Regions from separate parts of the Homo sapiens genome. Here region 1 is linked to region 2. The links come from fine-mapping of genetic effects on gene expression. A gene starts in region 2. The other region holds a variant in brackets. All regions are shown on one strand. Distances are from middle to middle. Region 1 overlaps PCMTD1 (protein-L-isoaspartate (D-aspartate) O-methyltransferase domain containing 1). Region 2 holds the start of PCMTD1 (protein-L-isoaspartate (D-aspartate) O-methyltransferase domain containing 1).

Region 1 (4,392 bases), 52 kb after region 2:
ATACACTTAATGCATTCAAGGTGTATATCACATTCTAAATAAATGAGATATTGGTGACATTGCTATTTAAATTCTGCCTTTTATTAATGCATTTTTCTTTTTAATTTACTTTGAACATGTTAGTTACCATTCATATTGTTAAGTAGTGATCATTAAAGATGTGCCTCCATGTCATTGAAAATTAAACAGTTTCATCTATAAAAAATCATAAATGGTGTTTACAATTCAGTATTAATGCATAGCATATTTTGCATGTATATTTATATTGTTTGTCAAATTCTTTACATATTAATGAATTGTCTTTATCTTTCATTATTAAATATCTTGTGTCAAGGTAGTATGAAAAACAAGTTATGTTTAAAAAAATTAAGAAATTTTCTTTAAGCTTATTTGCAAAAGTTGACACTTTGCTTTTAGATAATAAGCAGAAAGCAGGAAAAATAAAACGAAAAAGAGACCAGTGGCGTCTTTAACTGAGAGCCTAGAACTTTGAAATTCAGATTCTTTCTGTTAATAATGCAGTTTGAACTATGGATTAGAAGCCTTGATTACAGATTCTTAACACCTTTGTTATTATATTTATATATTCTGTCTTATAGGAAACATGGAGTGCCAGCAGTATTGACCTTTTTAATTGATCTCGTATCTATGCAGCCCTGGTTTTTCTTTTTTCATAAAAATGTAACTAGATTTTTTTTCTCTCTCTCTCTTCTCTTTTTTTTCTCTTTAAAGACACGGTCTCACTCTGTTGCCCAGCCCGGATTGTAGTGGCAGGAACATAAGAGTCTTATAGGAAACATAAGAGTGCCAGCAATATTAACCTTTTCAATTGAACTCCTATCTATGCAGCCCTGGTTTTTCTTTTTTTATAAACATGTAACCAGATTTTTTTCTTTCTCTTTTTTCTTTCTTTCTTCTTTTAAAACAAACAAAACCACGGTCTCTCTCTGTTGCCCAGCCCAGAGTGCAATGGCAGCAACACAACTAACTCACTGCAGCTTCTACCTCCTGGTCTCAAGCAATCCTCCTGCCTCAGCCTCTCGAGTAGCTGGGATTACAGGCATGCACCACTAAGCCCGGCTACTTTTTTTTTAGTTTATTGTAGAGACGAAGCCTTGCCATGTTGCCCAGGCTGGTCTCGAAGTCCTAGGCTCAAGCAATCCTCCCACCTTGGCCTCCCAAAGTGCTGGGATTATAGGTGTGAGTCACCGTGCCTGGCCCTTGGTTCTTAATGGATAATGAAAATGTAAACATCTCATGTTTTATAGTCAATGGATCACCCTAAAAGGAAGAAAGGGAAATTAGGTTTATGTCATAGGATAGTATTTTTCTTACTATGTACATAATGTTAAGTAAGTGTAGTTTTATTTCATTTTTTTTTCTTTTTTTGAGACAGAGTCTTGCTCTGTCACCCATGCTGGAGTGCAATGGCAAGATCTTGGCTCAGTGCAACCTCCGTCTCCTGAGTTGAAGCAATTCTCAAGCCTCAGCCTCCCAAGAAACTGGGATTACAGGTGTGCACCACCACACCTGACTAATTTTTGTATTTTTAGTAGAGACAGGGTTTTGCCATGTTGGCCAGGATGGTCTCGAACTCCTGGGCTCAAGCCATCTGCCCGCCTTGGCCTCCCAAAGTGCTGGGATTACAGGCATGAGCTACCACATCCTGCCTGTATTTGAATTATTTTAAATGAGGTAAACTATTTGGTTTTTTAAAACATTTTATATGTTGACATCTATGGAAATTCAAATTCTCAGAATATTTACATTTAATATATTGAAAAGTCACTGTGCTTTTCTAAGTTTAATTTTTTGGCTGCTTTATTATTTTGAATATAAAAATTTTAGTTTTACTCAGTTTATCTGGAGTAATAGGAATTACAAGAAGTCATAAATGATTTTGGGCAGACGTTCCAGTTTTCAGTTGAAGGCTAAGAGTTCATAAGGAAGGAAACAAGCAAAAAGTTTGACATTGCTTTAACCAGGACAATTTATAAAATGTAAAAACATTGCAAAGGAAGTTAATTCTGTTGTGGTTTGATGAATCAAGCACCTTTTTATTTATTTTTCCTATTGGAACACATTTTTCAAGTAAAAGCAATGTTTTTATAAAAGTATAGTAGGGGAAGGCATTATCCTTAT[T/C]GGATTTTGGGTTTAAGATTATATCTGAACATTTTGGTTAAATTTTTATAGTTTGGATATTTCCTAGATGGCAAACCATATTTTACATGTACTGTTTCAACATTCAAACATGACAATTTATGATTGTGATTTTTTGGTTAAAAGTACCTAATGGTCAGTAGAAACAATCCAAATATGCACTGTTGTTTTAGACATTTGGTAGAGGGCACATCCAGTTAAGTATTTCCTAAAGATACTGAAAATAAGACACCTTCCAGGACCAATGTCAAAGTGAAACAAAAATGTTGAGTGGAAAACCTGGTTGGCTGAATTTCAGAAGTTGAAAAGGGACTAACTGTAATTTGTGTGTTATATTCTCATGTGGGTCATGGGGCAGGTTAGTATGTATGTACAGTAGCCTTAGGAGACACTGAGTCCTCGTATTTTCAGGGTGAGGGAAAAGAGCCAGCCCAATAACATCTCTCGGGGCTGGGAAAACTCTCCTCTATTCATTCCCCTTTTCCTGGGAGGTAGTCCGTCCATGGGCATATGCAAAGAGAAAGCCTAAGTGAGAAGTGTAAAAGATGCTGGAGCATGAGAGTCAAGTCCAGCATGCTGCCCAATGGCCACATTCTGCTAGGCACTGGGAGCTCCAAAAGGCATGGAGTGGGGTGGGAATTTAGCCTCTACTGGCTGGGGGTAGCGATGCCCTGAGACATTCATGTAATATCTGTGTTAGCCCATGGTTTTAGGTATTTTGAATTACCAATTTTTTAGCAAATGATAAAATAATAGCAAGTAACTTAAACTTCACTTAGAAATACTATTCTTTTGGCAGTTTTGTCCTGCCAGATAAGCTACTCTCTTGGGAGAACTCTGTAGGTTTCAACCTTATCCCTGGTAGTAGTTTTTGATAGAAAACTCAGGCGAACTTTTTTTTTTCCCCTTTTTTTACATTAAAGCAATGTACGTGGATTTCCATTCAACTTTTAAGTCTGAGGCTAGGAAGTATTTGCATATTTCAAGCCATCTTTAAATACTCCTGTGATGTATAAATGAGCAGAACTTAAAAAAGAGCTCTGTAAGGGCATATTATTAATATTTTTTATAAAAATGCTGCTACGATTGCAGGTCCTTTTGGAATAAATCATGGGATTGAGCTTCATTCAGATGTGGTGGAATATGCCAAGGAAAAACTGGAGAGCTTCATCAAAAATAGTGATAGCTTTGATAAGTAAGTATTCATATCTATAGTTTTGGTTTAAAATCACTTAATAGATACATGCAACATGTCTATTCTTGAACACTATTATTGATCCTGACTGGCTCAATTGAATGCAGCAAAAATCAGTGCACCATAAAATGAGAAAAAGTTAAGATTATTCTGTGGTATAACTTTTACTATATGTAATTCTATAGTAAATTATAAATAATGTGATTTTTTGCTACTACAACTTTATTAGTAATGTTGAATTCATTAAACATTCAGCTATCTTTTCTGGAGATACAGTGTAATAATGCTGTGATTGCAATATTTGTCTGGAACTGGTTTTTTACCTTTTGGATAGTAATTTAGTAGTTCTGTCCTCTTCAGGACATGAGAGGTGGTACCAGTCAGTATACAAAGGACTTTAACATATTCAGCTACTTTGTAATATATCCAGAAGAAATGATCATAGAAATACATTGATATATCTTGTGATAGGATTGTTAATAAGAAATTGGTTTATAAAACCATTGTTTTGAACTCACAATATAACTCCTCTTAGAAGAAACATTGCACGGGCTTTGGTCCTTGGGCTGGCAGGAAAAGTCCATTTGGTGTGTAATCCTAAAATTCTGCATTGCTATAGAGCAAGAGCACTTACGCTGAAATCCATGAGCTCTTTGAAATTGTGTAAAATTTGGAGAGCTTTTACATCTCTCATTTCACTGTGTATCTGATTTTCAAAGAGAAAAAGTGTTAAAAAGGATAGAAAACACAAGCTTAGAACAGTCACTTTAAAGAACAAAGTTTTAGGCAAAAACACTGAGAATTTCAACTCGGCTTGTTGGGAGTTGGCCCTCATTTATATCCAGCCCTTGGCTATGACCATCAACAACTTGAGGGAGGGGGCTACATCAGAACTGAGGGCTTTTCTCTAGAAAGATCTAGATTGAAGGACACCACCAGAGAGAAGAAGCTAAAAAACCTTGTGAATATCTTCAGAGGAATGTTTATTTTCCCCCTCCTGCCTTTGCCCTTCCTCCCCTTCCTGCCTTTGGCCTTCC
Region 2 (4,392 bases):
TGTGTTTAACTTTCCAGCCGCAGAAGAGAAAAAAGGTCTAGAACCCTGAAAAATTCCCATAGCAGAAGGAAGAAAGTAAAGGAAAATATGCTTTTAAAAAATGGAGAGAAAACAGGGGAAACGGCTGTAAGAGTTGTTTAATGATTTTAGCTATTTTCCTTAGATTACCATTTGTACTTTTTTTGTTTGTTTATGGTAAGATAGTTTTCATGTGCCAAAATTTCTGCTTGGACTAACAGAAAATTCATCCTGTAAGATTGTTATATGATCCCACAACGGTTAGGAGTGCCCTGGGTCCAGGCAGAAATCCAAAGATGGAGCTAATAATGTGACCCGCAGCTCTACTCCAGAATGCAGATGAATAGAGATTTTGAACAGTTCGGAGCTCAATGTCCACTGAATATGCACTCATACTTTAAACCTAAATAAAGTGAAGCCTTTGAGTTAAATGGCAGAGCGCCTCAGCAGCAATTTTGCTCGTTTTCAAGTTCTTATTTCGTGATTTGAAGCTTTTGACCTTGCTAGCATGTTCTTTCTGAACGCTTTTGCAGATGGTTGGTTATGGTGGGGAGTAGTAACCCTAGCATAAAGACGTTCTAATTCTAACTTACCTTAGGTAACCTATAAGGGTAGCTTACGCTCACTCTCATACTTGAAAATCAAAACCGAACAGAATTCACACGATGGAAGCAAATCATGCTACAACCTACTATTAGAGACTGAAGGGAAACGCACAAAGATTAATGAACAACAAAGAACACTTCAAAAAGTACAGTATTTGGAAAAGACATGCCTTTATGTACACTAAAACTAATTTAAAAAATTAAATGCAGTTTGCTAGGAGTCTTACAAGTATTAACAGCATGTTCACTGCTTAGGATCCTTAGTAGCAATATTTTCCCGGCTCGCCTGCCCCTATGCCTCATTTCCTCTTCTTTTTTTTTTTGAGATGGAGTTTCGCTCTTGCCGCCCAGGCCAGGTGCCATCTCAGCACTGCAACCTCCGACTCCCGGGTTCAAGCGATTCTCCTACCTCAGCCTCCCGAGTTGCTGGGACTACAGGCGCACGGCACCACACCCGGCTAATTTTTGTATTTTTAGTAGAGACGGGGTTTCACCATGTAGGCCAGGCTGGTCTCTAAGTCCTGACCTCAGGTGATCCGCCTGTCTCGGCCTCCCAAAGTGCTGGGATGACAGGCGTGAGCCACTCACCCGGCCCTCTTCTCGACTTTCTATCCCTCCTCCTCAACACCCTTTCCTTCTGGAAATGGGCTTTGGGGTGGTTAACCAAGCCCAGGGAAACTTGCGTGGCCCAGCATCTTCCGTCCGCTGCAGGAGGAGCACACGCCCCCGGCCCGGGTCAGCAAGACGCGAGAAAGCGGCCACGCCGGGCGTCCGGGAGCTGAGGCTGGAGGGCGCCTGGCAGGCAGGGCGGGGCCCAGGCGGCGGGAGTGCTTATGACCGGCGCTGGGGGGAACTTCTGGACGTCAAGGGGCCACTATAAAGCGGCACAGTCTTGAGCCTTCGCTCTTCACCTAAGTCAGTGAGCGCCCTTCGCAAAGCCTCTGTGGAGGTAACCATTGGGGGTTCGCCTCCAAATCCAGGAATGCACCTCAAAAATGCTCCTACACCGTAAGACCGTGTCCTTCAATGCAAAGGGGACTGTGCGGCGAGGCACCGACAAGCCGTAGCCCTGAGACCACTGAAAGCCTGCACCCCAGCGCCGGTGCGAGAACGTGGAGATGGCGGTGGGGAGGAGAGGTGGAGGCCATGCTCTCGCGTGATCTCCCCTACCGCCATCGTCTTCTGGCCTGTCAAGGCCTCGCGTTGTTTGGGCTTGGGGGCGGAGCGAGCCCTGAGGGGGGCGGGGCCAGATGGGGGCGTCTCCCGGCCTTGTTGACTTTGGCGTCCGCGGGGAGCTGCCCCTGTGCCCGTGGTTCTCTGCGCATGCCCGGACCCCGGCGGCTCCGGAGTCCGGGAGGCTCTGGCTGCTCCAGTCGCGGGTCCGGGCCCCGCCTCTCCACTCGGCGGTGGCGTCCGTGTTGTTATTGTGGTGGTAGCGGCGTCTGGCTGCTGCGGACCCCGCCGAGTCCTAGCGCCTGGCCTGCGCGCCGCTGCCCGCGCCACAGGTAACGCCGCCGCCAGTGGGGGCTCGGGGTCGTGGGGTGTGCGAGTCCCGCGTGCTAGGGCCGGGCGGGCGACTGGGATGCGCTTGGAGGCCAGAGGGCCAGGGGGACGGCAGCCGAAGAGTCGGGGGCAGGGGGACTTAAGGGCGGGCAGGTCGGGGGCCAGGAAACTGAGGCGCTGCGGGGCAGGTTGGGGGAAGGACGGGCCGGGGGCGGAGGACTTGGGAGGTCGGGGAGTCGAAAGGGGCCCAGCGAAGCCTGGAGGTCGGGAGCCGGGGTCCCTGGGGCCGGGGAGGTCGGGGGCCCGAGGGAGGCCGGGGCGCCGCGTCCTCGGCCCGTCCTCGGCTCGTCCTCGGCTCTGACCTGGGCTTGGGGACCAGAGTCCCGAGGCTGGCGTCTTGAGATGCCCGCGGGCCCCTTAGGGCCGTTTTGGATCCGCCCAGTGACTTCTGTTTTGGTTTTGGAGGCAGAGAATCCAGTCTACGTAGACTCGGGGAAGTCTCGGGGGCTGGGAGGGGACTGAGAGGTTATAGCAGGCGCCAAGGCCTCTTTTTGTGTTTTTGAGCGTCTACTACCGTTCCGGGGAAGTGCAGTGCCCGCGTTTTGCTTGGGGAATTTCAGACACCGGCATGGGGAGGACCCACGGGCAGAACCCGAGGGAGTAATTTTGCAAATCCAAGATTTTTTGGAACTTCTATAATTTTGTTTTCGTGTGTCCTCTTTTTAGAATCGAGAAACCAGAGATATATTTTTAACATTACAAATCAGAAGAATTTGCTACGGAGGAAAAAAGTATGCTTTTAGCAGTGTTTTTCCCCTATTTATTTTTTTAATTACAAAAGTACTGCTTGCTCCTTGAGAAAAACATGAAGCAGCCAAACAATGAGGAAACCTGCCCTCTCTCGCGCCCTTCCCCCCATATTTCTCCTTCTTACTACCCAGGGTAGCCAGTCTCCAAGTGTGGTGGGTAGTTATTCAGGATTTTTTTTTTCTGTGCATTTAATGAGTGTGCTTTAGAAACAAGATTGGGATCATATATAGTACAGTATATCGTTTTATTAGCCAACAATGCATCATGGATATTCCTCCATTTTATTACACACCTCATTATTTTAAAAAACATTATTACTATGTATTAGAGAATCCAATCTACGTAGGCTTGGGGAAGCCTTTTCTTCATTGTTAAACATGGTCGCCAAGTTTTCAATAATCAGTAGCTTTGAAAAGGGCTACAAGCCAATATTTTGAAACAATGTGGCAAAACTTTCAGAATGTCTGCGGCCAGACGACATTACTTTCGTATTAAGCAGATTAATATGTTTACGTATTGCTTAATGGTAGTTTACATGAGGCTAGATGACTCCATAAAACATAAAGTTGCTGAATTAGTTTACTTTTTGGTTTTTTTTATTTCATTTTTTTCTAAGTAAATTTTAATTCCATATGGTCAGTTGAACACTTGTAATTTCTTTAACATGAAGTAGCTAATATGTGAAGGAAAGGTAAGGTAGGAAAGATAGAAAGCTAGTGGCCCTAGCCTGAGACAAGAAAAAAAAAGCAACAGGGATTAAATATTTTGGTAAGTAAGCTATAGGGAGTAAACTGGAAGTGGAGGGGTGATACTACACTGCCTACTATTAAGTAAGACAGAAAGCTAGGAAATTCCCATTGCATACTGTATTTCTGTGTGCAGAAGAGCTGGAGGCTTTGTTGATTTAATCACTAGCTTGTATTTATTAAAAATGTACTGTGTTCATCTTGGTGCTAGCTTCCAGGGAAAGAACAACTGAGGAAGATAATCACGAACAACGTCTGGTTCTAAACATGCATAGCCTGAAATTTTAAGCCAAATTGTGTAGTATTTTATGATTTGGAAACTGTGCTCGAAAGGAATAAAAAAATCCATGACATTTTAGTTATTTTTGGTAATAATATGCTCATATATTTCTCATAACAACATAAATGACATTCTTCTCATTCTATAGAGTAATAAATAGAGGCTTTGAGTAAAAGAACTGCTCAAGATCCCATTGCTTTTTTTTTTTTTTTGTAATAGTGCGTGTTTATATTCAGGAGTGCTTAATCCAAGAACCTGTGTTTTCTGCTCTTGTTTTACCTCCTATGAACGAAAAATTGTTGCCCTTACGGTTTTTTCTGCTTTCTTTGAAATGTTCCTTACAGAATAACTACATGAATGTAATCACATGCATTTAAAATAGTCTAGAGAATATAGTGTGAAACTATAATGGTATTTTTTTAGATGAGGT

Evidence for each region. PIP is the estimated chance that this variant, and not a neighbour inherited with it, causes the effect. A credible set is the group of variants that fine-mapping cannot tell apart.
Region 1: its variant is the best candidate, but not a certain one, in a credible set for the expression of PCMTD1 in whole blood (INTERVAL, PIP 0.67).

Annotation. Positions count from the first base shown.
Region 1 is chr8:51,844,624-51,849,015 of GRCh38, reverse strand. It overlaps PCMTD1 (protein-L-isoaspartate (D-aspartate) O-methyltransferase domain containing 1), which reads left to right. Exons shown (of 6, transcript NM_052937.4): 3 at 3,253-3,355. Among named protein-coding and RNA genes, the nearest start is that of PXDNL, 37 kb to the right of the region's middle. The variant T/C (reference allele first, on the strand shown) is at 2,143.
Region 2 is chr8:51,896,666-51,901,057 of GRCh38, reverse strand. It overlaps PCMTD1 (protein-L-isoaspartate (D-aspartate) O-methyltransferase domain containing 1), which reads left to right and starts at 2,022. Exons shown (of 6, transcript NM_052937.4): 1 at 2,022-2,128. It overlaps PCMTD1-DT (PCMTD1 divergent transcript), which reads right to left and starts at 1,743. Exons shown (of 4, transcript NR_189279.1): 1 at 1,212-1,743. RefSeq lists enhancers at 906-965, 1,266-1,325, 1,496-1,785 and a silencer at 1,826-2,515.